Regions from separate parts of the Homo sapiens genome. Here region 2 is linked to region 1. A link means that fine-mapping ties the variant in region 1 to the expression of a gene that starts in the linked region. Tissue or cell type: sigmoid colon. Region 1 holds a variant in brackets; the other region holds the start of a gene. All regions are shown on one strand. Distances are between the middles of the regions.

Region 1 (8,000 bases):
TGTGCATGTGTCTTTATGGCAGCATGATTTATAATCCTTTGGGTATATACCCAGTAATGGGATGGCTGGCTCAAATGGTATTTCTAGTTCTAGATCCCTGAGGAATCGCCACACTGACTTCCACAATGGTTGAACTAGTTTACAGTCCCACCAACAGTGTAAGTGTTCCTATTTCTCCACATCCTCTGCAGCACCTGTTGTTTCCTGACTTTTTAATGATTGCCATTCTAACTGGTGTGAGATGGTATCTCATTGTGGTTTTGATTTGCATTTCTCTGATGGCCAGTGATGATGAGCATTTTTTCATGTATCTTTTGACTGCATAAATGTCTTCTTTTGAGAAGTGTCTGTTCATATGCTTCACCCACTTTTTGATGGGGTTGTTTGTTTTTTTCTTGTAAATTTGTTTGAGTTCATTGTAGATTCTGGATATTAGCCCTTTGTCAGATGAGTAGATTGCAAAAATTTTCTCCCATTCTGTAGGTTGCCCGTTCACTCTGATGGTAGTTTCTTTTGCTGTGCAGAAGCTCTTTAGTTTAATTAGATCCCATTTGTCAATTTTGGCTTTTGTTGCCATTGCTTTTGGTGTTTTAGACATGAAGTCCTTGCCCATGCCTATGTCCTGAGTGGTATTGCCTAGGTTTTCTTCTAGGGTTTTTATGGTTTTAGGTTTTTTGTTTGTTTGTTTTTTTTTTTTGGTTGTTGTTGTTGTTAGAGTTTTGCTCTTGTAGCCCAGGCTGGAATGCAGTGGTGAGATCTCGGCTTACTGTAACCTCTGCTTCCTGGGTTCAAGCAATTTTCCTGCCTTAGCCTCCCGAGTAGCTGGGATTACAGGCACCCACCACCACGCCTGGCTAATTTTTGTATTTGTAGTAGAGACTGGGTTTTGCCATGTTGGCCAGGCTGGTCTTGAACTCCTGACCTCAGGTGATCCACCCACCTCGGCTTCCCAAAGTGCTGGGATTAGAGCTGTGAGCCACCACACCCAGCCATATAATTCTTTTTAAAAAACTTTTGTTGGAAGTTCATGGGTACATGTACGGGTTTGCTATATAGGTAAACTTGTGTCATGGGGGTTTGTTGTACAGATTATTTCATCACCCAGGTATTAAGCCCAGTACCCATTATTTGTTTTTCCTGATCCTCTCCCTCCTCCTATCCTCCACCCTCCATTAGGCCCCAGTGTGTGTTGCTCCCTTCTATATGTCTATGTGTTCTCATCCTTTAGCTCTCCCTTGAAAGTGAGAACATGGGGTATTTGGTTTTCTGTTCCTTTGTTAGTTTACTGAGAATAATGGTCTTCAGCTCCATCCATAAGGTTTAAGAATCACTCTTTAAAGTAACAATATTTACCATTTAGAAACATTTTATCCTGTGATTGGCAGACGTTGAGTACACATATCAGTTGCCATCCAATCACTCAGTTGGGGTCCATGATATTGAATCTTTGCCCTGAGTTTTATTCATTCTCTTTCTCTCAGGGCTTCTAATTGGGTTTACACAGAGCCCTTGGTGATTGTGAAAACTAGAGGCATAAATGGTTTGGCACTTCTAAGCGTTAGTCCACATGCCAACCACAATAAAGAACATAGGAGATATGAGGGTAGGCTATGAATGGAAGACGTAGTCAGATAAGCTTTAATGTTAAGCTTCCTCATCCAGGAAGGATCGAAATAGACATGAAAGCCTTTATTGCTTCCAAAGATTTCATTTTCATTTATTGACTATAATAACAGTGTTAAAAATAAAGCAGGCAAAACTGAAAACCCCACATTTGGGTAAAGACTGAGCCAGCACTTCTATCGATTAAATCGGATCTGGAACTAGATTTGGACGCAATGGCTATCCTGATTCCTTATACGTGTAGACGGGGTCTCATGTGAAACCACGGGGAAAGTGCAGCTAAAGACCGTTGATTGAGTCTAATTTTTTATGTGGATTTCATTATTGCTCCCACGTATGTGGGTGACTTTTGCATGTACATAAACCTCATGTATACACAAAGATAATACACTGATGATATAGACATCAGAAGGGGGTGATCATTAATAACCATTCTGATGCCCCAACAACTAAGTCACTTACTCTCCTATGACCCAAAAACTGTCTAGGGCAAACCATTTATTCAGAAATGCAACGTTTTCAAATAAGAGATATGTCAGTTCTAAGCATAGATTAGCAATAAAGGACTTAACTGCTTCTCCATTGGCCTGTGACCAGATGATACCATAAAAATTAGACTTGTTTATTTCCCTCCTAATTTTAACTAGAGACATATTTGGAATAATAATGGAACAGTACTTATTAAGAAACAGATAATATCCATAAATATCCTGGAGAGCCACTGAGTCTTCCTCAGTGGTAAAACTCCAGGGGATTTAATCTGCGTAAATTTGCAGTGAATTCCCTAATGGGCCTGTTGAGATTCAGAATCTTAGTGTCTGTTATCAATCCAACACCAGGATTAGTACAAGGTCAGCATGCCAGGCCCATGCCTGACAAGCAGTGAATTGCTCAAACCAGAGAAAGTCAAATGTCAAGAGAACCATCAAAGTGGAAATAAGATATAATGAATGGCTTGTTGGTAAGTCAAACATTGATGTCACATAGGCTCGTGCAAAATTTATGGCATGGATAAACAGTGGCCCCAAATCCCTCTCAGTCTATATTTTTTAAACACTTTAATTTGGAAAGGCAATATATTATATATACAGTTGTCCCTCAGTATTGTGGAGGATTGGTTTGAGGGTCTCCTACAGACACCAAAATCTGTGGATGCTCAAGTTCCTGATATAAAATGGTGTAGCATTTGAATATAATCTATGCACATCTTATACTTTAAATCATCTCTAGTTTACTTATAATACCTAATGCAATATAAATGCGATCTAAATAGTTGTTACACCGTATGGTTTAGGAAACAATGACAAGAAAAAAAAGTCTGTATATGTTTAGTGCAGACACCATTTTCTCCCCAAAATATTTTCAATCTGTGATCATTTGAATTCACAAATACAGAAAGGGCTGACTGTACATATAATCACCCCAATCTACTACTTTAACATAATTGTTTTTAATTTATGTATTATCTCCTGATCCCTGTTACTTGCAGACACATTTCTTTAATTATAATTATTGGTTATATATACTTTTATAGTCCATGATTTTTCACTTATTATTACATTTTAAGCATTCTTATGTAACTATACTATCTGCTTTCACAATTATTTTAATTTTTTGCATAAAATGTCATCATCTTTATTAAACCAGAAACCATTACATTATTTTCCAAATGCTACACATTTTGATATTTGGCTAGTATAGATAACGATGGAAGAAATTTCTTCATGCCTATTTCTTTTTTCTTTTGAACTATTTGCAACAAACTCTTAGATGTAGAATTTAAAGGTTACTGGTTCTAAAGATCTCTAGGAGTCTTGATATATGGCGTCATATTGATGCCCAAAAGGTTTGTTAACCCTGGGTGCAGTGACTCATACCTGTAATCCCAGCACTTTAGGAGGCCAAGGTGGGGGGATTGCTTGAGCCCAGGAGTTCAAGACTAGCCTGGGCAACATGGTGAGACCCCATCTCTACAAAAAATAAAGACATTATCTAGGCATAGTGGCATGCACCTGTGGTCCTAGCTACTTTGGAAGCTGAGGTGGGAGGATCACTTGAGCCTGGGAGGTTGAGGCTGCAGAGAGCAGTGTTCCTTCCACTGCACTCCAGCATGGGTGACAGAACAAGACCCTGTCTCAAAGAAAAAAAAGTTTTGTTTCCATCTAAAGTAATAGTAATAGTGGATCAATGTACCAATTTTACCACTATCTAGCAGCATTAGGCATTACAGTTCTTTTTGCTATTTTAGAAGGTGCAACATGCTATCTCTTTTATATAAATATAAAAAGTTATTTCATGTTTCATGTTTTGATTGGTTAAATCAGAATTCTGCAAATTATGGCCCATTACATGTTTTTTATAAAGTTTTACTGGAACACAACCACACTCATTCCTGTATTACGCATTGTCTATGGCTGTTTTTGTGCTACAAAGGCAGAGTTGAGTAGTTGTGATAGAGACC[G/A]TATGGCCTGTAGTGCTGAAAATATTTACTAATTGGCCGTTTACCATAAAAAAAAAAAAAGATTAGTGACCTCTGGCTTAAACAATAAAAGTGACATGTTATTTTGAAACAATTCCAACAATTGGAAGAATTTAACTAAACATGACTGGTTTCCCCTTATCCTTAAAGAAATTTTCTCTTTTTGTAAAGAAATATCACGCTTAAAAAAGTTTGTATTTTTCTCTCCTCTGGTTTAGAAAGTCTGTTTTCTTCAACTTTCCTTATTATTACCTCACTTAACCCCCAAAGTAAAAGAACACTTATACCTGTACTATGCCACTCACTGTTTTTTTCTATTTGTTACCTTCTATAAACTATGACATACATTCGTTATATTGCACAAATCCCAATATCCAGTTAATTTTTGTACAGCTGTGCAACTCCCACCCAGATTGAGCTATAAAATGTGACCACTATCCTAGAAAGCTTCCTCATGGCCCATGCCAGTCAATATGCCCCCCACAAGTAATCAACATTCTGTCCTCCATGACCATGGGGTGGTTTTGTCTTCTTTTGATCCTCAAATAAATGGTGGAATCATACAACATGTATTCATTGATGTCTCTTGTGACATTGATACATATTACTGCATGTAACCACAGCTCATTATTTTTTTTCGTTGCTGGGTGGTATTTTATCGTACAAATTTATCCATTTTGCTGCTGATGGGCATTTACATCACTTTTAGTTTTTGTCTGCTTTGGATATTTTTGTACCTTTCTTGTGCACAAAGGCACTTATTGGTTTGGAAATATACCTAGGAATGAAATTGCTGGGTAATAGAGCGCGTCTACTCAACTTTAGTAGATACTTTGAACCAGTGTTCTGAAAATGTAAACCAATTTACATTCCTGCCAGCAGTGCAGGTAGTTTCTCCAATTTGCAAGTGCTCCTTTTCGACTTTCTGTAAGAGGTAAAGCTGGCTTGTGCAACAGAACTCTAGGTGTCTTCATCAGTGGCTGTGTGGTTGGCTGTTGCCACCAGTCATTTAGAGATCCAGATTCTTGCCCCAACATCAACATTGCCTTATTTTGTGACCTTGGTTCATGTAACCTGACCTCAGATTTAATGTCAGTACAATGGGGGCAGAGGACTGTGGAGTCTGCCCCACTTACTTTCCTGAGTTAGAATTGATATCTAGCTTCTCTGCCACCCGCATGTGCTCTTCCACTCATCCCTGGCCACTGTCTCACCCCATCTGGTGCCTTAGACTTGGGAAAAGGGAGAGGAGGTCAGAGGAGCACCTCCATACCTGGGGAGCGGGAGGATGTCATCAAAGGAAGAGCTGAGAGCTCTCCTAAGTCATAACCCAGCCCTGCACACCACCCTATTACCCTCTATGGAAAGAAAAACAGGGTCTTCCTTCTGCTTTAGTTACGGATGGTTCTGACAGCTGATATAGGGTCCCTTCTGTAATAGTTTTATTTCTCACTTTCTGTCCTTCTCCATTCCCCTTTTTCTTCCTCCTCCTTCTCTTCCCTGTCCTCTTTTCTTTCCTTTCCACTCTCTCCTTCTCTCTTCATTCCACAACTAAGTCTCCGATGCCCATTAAGCTCCTTGTGTATACTAAGCAATGGGGAATACAGATCAAATGGAAGTGATCCATTTCGCTTCTGGATTTTACAGCTTCAAGGAACTTGTTGACAACACTTCGATAAAAAAGAAACTGAAAAGCAGTGAGATAATTTTACTTGCTGAAAAGAGGAGCTATTTCTTGGCATGTAGAACTGAGCAACACAGCATAGGTTACCTTGGAGTTACAAGAGAAGCATCACACCCAAATGGCTGAAGCCCCTGGCCAGAGATAAGAACTCAGAGGCATCTCCCCAACCTGGGAGACCAGGCTCCATGCTTTCCCACTGCTTCCTTTAAATGGATCATTCAGGCATTTGCCTGCAAACTTAAAGTGACCCGCACGCTATTCCCTTTTATGTACCACTAGTTGGCCACATTCTCTCTTTCTCGGGCTGACTCTTCATTCTTGCCTTGTGTGATGCAGGAGCAGAAAACTGTCCTCTTGATTCATTGCACCCTCCCTGCCCAGGATGTGTAAGTAATAAATCTTTGAGCTTATTTTCTATATGGTGGTGTATTGAATTTGCACCTTTCATCTGAAGACCTAGGAACTACCGCAGACTGGGTTTTCCCTCGGGGAGACTACAAGGTTGGGCTTCCAGTGCCAGAGCGATGATCAGGCAGACATAAACTGGACATGGGTCAGACAAGAGCTGCAAGGGCATCAGCAGTTATAAATAAGTTCCTCCTGGGAGAGATCCCCTGGTCATGGATAGGAAAACTAGGCATGAGGTTGTCTACTAGGTAAAAGAAGCATCCTGTGAAAGGCACGTGTAAACACCCAGATTTACTTCCCCTCGTTGGTCATTAGGGCAGGGTTGTTAGCTGCTGTAGTACTGGAAACCCAGTTTAGCCAGTGGCTCTCAAAACAGCACGGGATCTGAAGTTATTGCTATCCTTTTTTTTCTTAAATCTGTATGTGTTTAAAACACAAGAACTCCTTTGTGATATTAAAAAGTCCTCATAACCTTCCCATGATAAGTCATCAGATTTTGAGGACTATTGATTGAGAAAATATGCAATGGCAAAAAGTCACTATGAATTCATTTGTGCTCACAAATGCATGTGCCTTTTAAGCCATGTCAGCTTGACCGTCTTTATTTGTGTGAGGCAGATTGGTTAAGCAGATTCCAGAAGTGCTTGGTATATAATAAGGTTTCCTGGATTCCTACAAGGTTTCTGCCGTCTTACTTCAAAGAATTGTATCTCTCCAACTTCATCCAGTAATGGAAAATTATGACCATGTGTATTGTTTGATGTTTGATAGAGTTGTCCAATCTTTTATTGTCCAATCCTCTTTTTAATTTTTCTTCTGAAAGAGACACTGGTTGGGAAGCTGCACAAGTTGTAGTTGGGTTTTTTGTTGTTGTTGTTTTTGAGACAGTTTCACTCTTGTTGCCCAGGCTGGAGTGCAATGGCGCGATCTCAGCTCCCTGCAACCTCCACCTCCCAGGTTCAAGTGATTCTACTGCCTCAGCCTCCTGAGTAGCTGGGATTACAGGCGCCCACGACCACGCCCAGCTAATTTTTTGTATTTTTAGTAGAGATAGGGTTTCACCATGTTGGCCAGGCCGGTCTCAAACTCCTGACCCCAGGTGATCTGCGTGCCTCGGCCTCCCAGAGTGCTGGGATTACAGGCGTGAGCCACTGCACCCGGCCAGAGTTGGGAGATTTTATGGTTGGGAACCTGTGTGCATAAAATCCCCCAACTCCATCCAACTTGTGCGACTAATCACGTGGCCTGTGAAATCCTGCAATGTGACAAGTAGCAATGAACTTAACAATACTCAAGTTTCATCCATGGAGCAGAAATCTCAGTTGGAAGGTGGCGGTGAAACATTTATGCCAAAGACAGCCTGTCCCTGCCTCTAACTGGATACATTTAAGCCTAGCCCTATTTTTATTTTGGTTTTGTGACTTCTCAGCATTATACAGAAATGGAATATTCTGACATTTAAATAAGGAATATTTATCTCCCAAATTCAATCTATTTGTGTCCAGAATCTTGTACTATTTCCTATCACCACCACCATCAAAAGTATTTTTTCACTTCGGCAAATAGTTCAGTGACCCTCTGAGATCGTGAGAACAGAGGTCACAGGCTCCAGAATATTATTTCTGAACCCAGGGTTACTTGGGTCTTATTTTTCTCTAGCTCATTTTTTTTTCTTATTTGTCAGATTTATTGGGCCTTTGTTTTGTCCTTTTGAGAGTTTTTAAATTTGTCTTTAAAACAACATGGGTGTTGGGTCACCACAGGGAAGAGAGAAAGGAATGAGTTTCTCACTGCTGCATCTGGGAG
Region 2 (8,114 bases), 400 kb before region 1:
TGCTCCTTGTTCTTTCACTTAGAGAAGTCTTTGTCGGTTCTGTTAGCCAGGGTTCTCTAGAGGGACAGAACTAATAGGATAGATGTATATATAAAGGGGAGTTTATTTTATTTTATTTTATTTTTTATTTTTTTTGAGACGGAGTTTTGCTCTTGTTGCCTAGGCTGGAGTGCAGTGGAACAATCTCAGCTCACTGCAACCTCCGCCTCCCAGGTTCAAGTGATTTTCCTGCCACAGCCTCCCAAGTAGCTGGGATTACAGGTGTACACCACCATGCCTGGCTAATTTTTTGTATTTAATAGAGCTGGGGTTTCACCATGTTGGTCAGGCTGGTCTTGAACTCCTGACCTCAGGTGATCCACCCGTCTCGGCCTCCCAAAGTGCTGGGATTACAGGCATGAGCCACCGTGCCCAGACTAAAGGGGAGTTTATTAAGGAATATTGACTCACATGATCACAAGGTGAGGTTTCACAATAGACTTCAAGCTGAGAAGCAAGGAAGCCAGTCCGAGTCCCAAAGCTGAAGAACTTGGAGTCCGATGTTCCAGGGCAGGAAGCATTCAGCCCCAGGGGAAAGATGGAGGCCAGAAAACTGAACCAGTCTAGTCTTTCCATATTCTGCCTGCTTTTATTCTGGCTGTGCTGGCAGCTGATTAGACGGTGCCTACCCAGATTGAGGGTGGGTCTGCCAGTCCACTGACTCGAATGTTAATCTCCTTTGGCAACGCCCTCACAGACACACCCAGGAACAATACTTTGCATCCTTCAATCCAATCAAGTTGATACTCAGTATTAACCATCACAGTTGATATAGCTGCTATGAAGAAGTTTTTCTTATCATCTGAAACTCTTTGAGCAGCAAAATTCTGCTTAGCATCCTAAGCTGCATTGAGAATTAAGCTTGGCAGCATAGATGGAGTAAGGCTGTCATGATCTTATACACGCTGTCACAGTCTCTGCATGTATGGTGAAGTTCCAGGTGCCTGACACACGATGTGCTCCACCCTGGTGACATGTCCACCCCAGTGCAACTCCAGCCTCCTGTGCCTATGTTTAGAGGCACAGTGTCCCTTCCAATGAAGGGCTGCCTTCTTTCTCTATTCAAAAGAGGCCGTATCAGTTTGATTTATCTTTCTATAAGTCTGATCATGAATAACTTAAAACCCTGAATACCAGTATTTTTCAAGAAAGACAAATCCAATTTCAGGGTCAGCATCAATTTATGAGAATAGCAAGTGCAGAGGCATCATCAGAATCCCCTATGGATCTAAAATAACTGTCCGTGCTTGGCCCCACACCTGGAGATCCTGATGGAGTAGATCTAGAGTGGGCATAGGCATCTGTGTTTTATTTTCTTTATTTATTTTTTTTGGGACAAAGTCTCACTCTGTCACTCAGGCTGGAGTGCAGCAGTGTGAACACTTGGGTTGTCATCATGTTGCCCCGGCTGGTTTCAAATTCCTGGGCTCTCATCATGTTGCCCAGGCTGGTTTCAAACTCCTGGGCTCAAGTGATCCTCCTGCCTTAGCCTCCCAAAGTTCTGGGAGTACAGGCGTGAGCCACTGCACCCAGCCACATCTGTATTTTAAAAAGTCCCATAGATAAAACCCACATATCCATTGCAGGAGACTGGATACACAAAGTGTGGCTTATCCATGCAATAGAGAGCTAGCTGCTCAACAATAAAAAATAAAAAAGCTGTTGATACATGCAACAACACAGAGGAATCTTCTAGACATCAGGGTAAGTGAAAAAAGCCAGTCACCAAAGAATACATAGTGTAAAATTCCACTTATATGAAGTTCAGAAAAGGGCAAAACTAATACATGGTATTAGAAATCAAAATTGTAGTTTACACTGAATGGGGGGAGTGGGATTGACAACAAAGGGACACAAGAAAACTTCCTGGTGGTGATGAAAATACTCTGTACCTCATTTTACGTGACGGTCTATGTGGATACACACAATCTCAAAAGTAACAAACTGGCTGGGTGCAGTGGCTCACACCTGTAATTTCAGCCTTTGGGAGGCCAAGGCCAGAGGATTTCGTAAAGACAAGAGTTTGAGACCAGCATGGACAACATAGCAACACCCAATGGCTACAAAAAATAAAAAATTTGCCAGATGTGGTGGCATGTGCTAACCACCACAAGTCCTAACTACTTGGGAAGCTGAGGCAGAAGGATCACTTGAGCCTAGGAGTTCAAGTTAATAGTGAGCTACGACCACACCACTGCACTCCAGCCAGGGCAAGAGTGAGACCCTGTCAAAAAAACAAAACAAAACAAAACAAACAAACAAAAAAATAAAAAAACACCAAAAAACCTTCACAAATGAAACCCTTGAGAGATATGCATTTTATTGTCTATAATTTATAACTCATTTAAATAAAATGGCCTAACTTCCCCTTTAGACCCCAAGCCAGAGTCTTGCATGGGTGCCAAGGAGTGGCCTAATCAGTTCAGCCCAGCCATAGACTCAAGAAAGGAAACATTTTCCTGTTCCCTGCCTTATATTATACAATCCCCCATTTTAATTTACTTTCCAGCATTTCCCTCACGCTTTCTCTGTCTTTTGGATTAAAAAAAAAACAAAAACAAAAACCCAGGAAACCCAGCATAGAACAACCAGCTCAATAATGAATCCATTTGTCTCCACACACTGTGCCCCTCTCCTGTCTCCATTTCAGCAGCCACATCCACATTCTTGGAAGAAGTTCCCCTGCTTCCAGGCTACTTCAAGGTGCATGATGTTGATTGAGCATCTACTATGTGCCAGACCTTGTTGACCCCTTTATTAAGGCTACTTCCTTTTCTTTTCAAAATAATCCTGAGAAGTAGATGTTTTTACTGCCCCCCATTTCCAGATTAGTGATCAATAAAGGGAAGTAATATAATGTCCAAAAGTGATATTTTAGTTTGATCCAGGTGCCATAGCAAAACATCATCAACAGCAGAAGTTTATTTCTCTCACTTCTTGAGGCTGGGAGGTCCAAGATGAAGCAGCAGCAGACTCAGTATTTGGGGAGGGCCTAGTTCCTGTTCATAGGCCGATGCCTTCTTGATTAAGTCTCACTTGGTGGAAGGACCTAGCTGACTCTCTGGCATCTCTTTTATAAGACCACAAATCCCATTTTACTCTCATGAAGCCATGAAGTCACCTCCTAAAGTCCCCACCTCCTAATACCATCACCTTGGGAGTTAGGATTTTATCCTATGAATTTGGGGGTGGGAACACACACATTTAGACCGCAGCAGGTGACATTAGGTTAAGTGGAGGAGGCAGGGTTGGAACAGTCATTGCAAAACCTCTTAGAATTTAAGACCCCTTTCCTTCCAAGGCCTGAAAGGCAGACAGGCGTTGGAGATACAGGTGAATATAAAAGGGGCAGAGCTCCTCCCTTGACCATGTATTTCATGCCCAGTCGCTAGAATTCAAGTCAACCAAGCCCTCACACACCCGGGCCGTCCCATGTTCTCTGGCTCACCTCTTCTGGTAGCTTAGAAGTGGCAGCCTCAGGGAGGCTTCTGTTTGGTAGAACTTAGAAGGAAGCATGTGGGAAATGCAGATGTCTTTGCTTTTAGGATTCTGGCTCCCTGAGATCAGAGGAGTGGGTTCCCGTACGGGGGTGGCGAGGCACAGGGAGAAGCATTGGAGCAGACTCTGTGTGTGTGTGTGTGTGTGTGTGTGTGTGTGTGTGTGTGTCGGCGCGCCTGTGCGTGGAGGGGGATAACTGTACCCAGCGCGAGGCACTGGGGGAGGAGGAAGCGGTAGCAGAGATCTGAATAATTGATTCTTCAGCCGCACCAGACGCCCGGGAGCGGGCGGAGAGCGTGGTTCCAACACCACGGACAGCAGCGCGCGCCGCCGCAGGCGCCCCCGTCGCCAGCCAGCCACCTATCCTGGCCTTATTTGCCGCCGTGCGCTCTCGGAACGGGTGGCCGCGCTCCGCGTCGCCGCCGAGGGACTGCGGGGTCTGTCTCGACCCACCTAGGAGAGAGGCTGCGGGCAGGAGACGCTTTCGCCCGCCGGAGCTCGAAGCCTCTTGGGCTTGAGCGGGGGCTACTGCGTCTCGCCGGCTGAGAACAAGTCCCTAAGTTGGTGTGGAGGGCGCCGCTACCTTCCTTCTCCTCTTCCTCGGAGGCGACCGCAGCAGAAAGACGCCCCGGGAACCCGGCTTTGCCAGTGCTGTGAACCAGGGTGTCCAGGCGCTCACCGGACTCCCGCTGGGAAGTGGGGAGCCGAACGCCCGGCGCGGAGCTGGCCCAGCAGCGAAGGGCCCGGAGGGAGCTGCCTTTCCCCGCCCGCGCCTCTCTCGGCCGGGGACCGCGGGGATCCCCGGCCACACGCGAGCGCGCTCCCACACTCACACACACACTCGCCCTCAAACACACCAGCCCGGAGCTGGGTTGCGGAGAGGGTGCTCCGGCGCGCTCAGAGGACCGGGCAGTTGCCGTCCGGAGTGGGGCAGGAAGCGGAGCTAGGGATCTTGGAGGGGAGCTCCTAGGGCTTGGCCGGATCATGGGACCGGGTGAGCGCTGAGAATCGCGGCCGCAGCCATCAGCCCTGGAGATGACCAGGAGCGGCCACTGCTGAGAACTATGTGGAGAGAGGCTGCGGTGAGTGCTAGCGCGGGACGCCGGGCCTGGGAGGCCCCCTTGGGAAGGGGGGAGGTGGGAGGCCTGAAGAGGGAGGAAGCGGCAGGATCACAAGAGGGTCGCTGCGTGGGAAAGATCCACCTCCCTCGGGGAACCGGGACCGCGGGAGCCCGCGTCCTTCCCTCCCCCTCTCCTACTGCTGGCTCGTCACAAACTCAGCCAGCGCCCCCCCACCCTCGTTACCTCCTCTTTCTCTCCCTACCTCCCTCGCTCAGCAGCTCCCGGTCGCACAACTCCCAGCAGCCGGCGCTGGGGAGGTGGTAGGGGGTGCGGGTGGAGGTGCCCAGTTAGCTTCTCGTGGGTGGCCAACCTGGGGCTCCCATTCTCCTGTGCACCCTGGAGTGGAGCTCCCGCTATCAGCCACAGGGGCTGAGGATCCGCACTGGGGGCGTCGTGGGCATCGGGCTTCAGCTTCCCCCCTCTTGTCTAGCCCCCCTGGGCGCATAGGGGGGCTTGTGAGCACTGCAGACTGCAGCCTTCCCCTCAACCCTCCCTCCCCTCGTTGGTGGGCTGACCCTGCCTCTCCTTCTCTCCTCCGCCCCGTTAGAGCCCTGCTGCAGAGCCTCCGGCTGGGATAGCCGCCCCCCGTGGGGGCGATGCGGACAGCGCGGGACAGCCAGGGGAGCGCGCTGGGGCCGCAGCATGCGGGAACCCGCTAAACCCGGTGGCTGCTGAGGCGGCCGAGATGCTCGTGCGCGCAGCGCGCCCCACTGCATCCTCGACCTTCTCGGGCTACAGGTACGTCCCAGAGGGAGATCAGGGCTCCTTGGGCCGGGGAGGAGGGAGACTCGACCGGAGGGAGAGCGGGAGAGGGATCAGGCTAGAGAGGGAGAGGGAAAGCGGGAGGGAGCCCAGCGGCGAAGTGCAGGAGGGGCACCAGGGGGCGCTGCGGCTCCGCGCTCCGCGGCGCTTACCCAGGAACGTCGAGGCCTCTTGGAGTTCGCCTCAACTTCCCCCGGCTCCAGCAGCGTCCGTCCCGAGAGGCGCGCGTCAGGGCACGCGTGCACGACCGTGCTGGTATTTGCAGGTACGCAGGGCTGTGCACCTGCCGCAGTTCATGCGTGTGCACCACCTGAGGACATGTGAGGACTCCGGCTGGCCGTGGGCACCGCTACAGCAGTCTGAGGAAGTGCGCAGAAAAGCGCGCGTGCCTATGAGCGTGTGCGGCCCACTGCCCACGTGCACCTAGGACTTGGCAACAGCGCCCGCAGTAGAAAGGCTAGGGAGGGGCTGTACAGTCCACGTCCGTCTGGGAGCTTCTTGGGAGCCTACCTTTCCCCCTACGCACGTTCTTTGCCAGCTCCTACGCGCTGGCCCGCGGGGGGACGCGCCTACTCTCCAGAATTCAGCATTGCACACGGCGCGCGTGAGAGAGGGTGTGTGTGTGTGAACATGTGTGTGTGCGTGTGTGTGTGCACGTGTGTGTGCACGCGCGCGTGTAGGGGTGAAGGACTCTCCACGGCCCCTTGGCTCGAGGTGGGGCGAGCCCCAAGTTCCCCAGGCACAGCGGAGCCTGGGCCCACCAGGCAGCGTCCTCACTCCCAAGCACTTGGGGTGTACTCTGACTGAGAGGAGCCGGGTCTGTAGTTGGGGCTGGGCGTAGAGCAAAGTGTGTGGTGCACACGACGGGCTCGTAGGGGGCGGGGTCAGCCAACTAGCTGAGCTCTCAAGCTGGGACGCGGGGTCTGGGTGCCGCCTCCGCACGCCCTGCGGGGTCTGTAGTTCGCTCCGCGCCAGCAGGGGGCGGGGTTGATAACTTGGTCCTCTCTATCCCAGGTGGGAGGGGTTGGATGGAGGGTTTATTCTGTGCACCTAGGAGCTTGGTGGGGTACAGAACACGCGCGGCGCTTAGGGTCTGTGGCCCGCGGCGAACTTGGGGAATGCGGTGGGGGATATGGACAGAGATGGGGATGGGGAAGTGCCTGGAGACAGGGGATGAGGAAGCTGGATGCGAGAAGGGGCTGGGGGATGGAGAATTAGCTCGAATTGGAGTTGTGGATAGAGTTAGAGATGGATCGAGGGATGTGGATGGCGTCGGGGACTCGGAATGGAGTCCGTGATCCCAGCAGCCTATCCTGCTGCTGAGTTCCATGCCTGGCTCCTAGAGCAGGAAGCCAAGTTGGTAATCCCTTTCTTCTGGTCGCCTTGCTCACCGCGGCCCTGCCTCTCACTCTTCACCTTGCAGGGACCGTCAGTGGCGACTATGGGCAGAGTGGGCTATTGGACCCTGCTGGTGCTGCCGGCCCTTCTGGTCTGGCGCGGTCCGGCGCCGAGCGCGGCGGCGGAGAAGGGTCCCCCCGCGCTAAATATTGCGGTGATGCTGGGTCACAGCCACGACGTGACAGAGCGCGAACTTCGAACACTGTGGGGCCCCGAGCAGGCGGCGGGGCTGCCCCTGGACGTGAACGTGGTAGCTCTGCTGATGAACCGCACCGACCCCAAGAGCCTCATCACGCACGTGTGCGACCTCATGTCCGGGGCACGCATCCACGGCCTCGTGTTTGGGGACGACACGGACCAGGAGGCCGTAGCCCAGATGCTGGATTTTATCTCCTCCCACACCTTCGTCCCCATCTTGGGCATTCATGGGGGCGCATCTATGATCATGGCTGACAAGGTAAGGCCGGAAACTGATGCCCTGCCAGGACCTGGGAAGCCACCAGCTGCATGGCAGCTGCTGCAGGTCTTCGGACGCCCCTAGAATCTGTCTTGATGTGAAGTGGGGGTGGGGGTGGGAGGGTCGTGGCCACTGGCCCTGGTGAGAACCAGGTCTTGCCTCTCCAACCCAGAAATGAATGGAAATGCCTTTTGCCTTGTTTCTGAAAATGGTGTACACAGGAGCACTTTGGTGTGTGTGTGCCAGGAAGCGCTCAGAAAACTGAGAAGTAGGCTGTGGGGTGGTGGTGGTGGCGGTGGTGGCATGTTTGGAGATTTACGAGTACCATGGGGCACAGAGGTGGGCCCAGGAGCACTGGAGACATATGCTTCCTATTTTCACAATGCCAGTTTTACCTGATTGTTTTGTGGGAAAATGTCCATTTTTTCCTCTTATGGTAAGTGACTAAAACTATTTCTAAAAATTATTAAATGTGGGTAGGTTCTGGAAGAAAATGCAAAGTTTTTAGGTAAAGCACAAAAGGGCAGAAAAAATGTCATGCTTCCTCTGACTCTGCAGTTAGAGGAACAGAGGTGGGGAGTTTGAGAAGCCCTGGGCCAGAGGAGCGGAGGAGAGACCCGTTCCTCAAGGGGAGTGGGTGGGAGTGGAAAGAATTAACTCCAAACCCAGAGCATGGAGGGCCTGGCATTTTCCTTACGTGTTCTTTGTCTGGGGCTCCAAGGCCCTCAGATGAAGGAGTTGGCTCCTGAACAAAGATGGGTCTTGGTACTAAAGTTGGAGAGTCTCAAAATGCAAGAAAGAGTGTACAAAAATCAGTTGGCTCTGAATGAGAGGGAGGG

What was found. PIP is the estimated chance that this variant, and not a neighbour inherited with it, causes the effect.
Region 2: it holds the start of GRIN2A, and the variant in region 1 is fine-mapped to the expression of GRIN2A in sigmoid colon (GTEx, PIP 0.99).

What each region holds. Positions count from the first base shown.
Region 1 is chr16:9,777,139-9,785,138 of GRCh38, reverse strand. The region is part of intron 11 of GRIN2A (glutamate ionotropic receptor NMDA type subunit 2A); the gene reads left to right. Among named protein-coding and RNA genes, the nearest start is that of LINC01195, 330 kb to the right of the region's middle. The variant G/A (reference allele first, on the strand shown) is at 4,085.
Region 2 is chr16:10,179,159-10,187,272 of GRCh38, reverse strand. GRIN2A (glutamate ionotropic receptor NMDA type subunit 2A) reads left to right here and starts at 4,845. Exons shown (of 13, transcript NM_001134407.3): 1 at 4,845-5,396; 2 at 6,844-7,275. The coding sequence starts at 6,862. RefSeq lists silencers at 5,578-5,637, 5,648-5,757.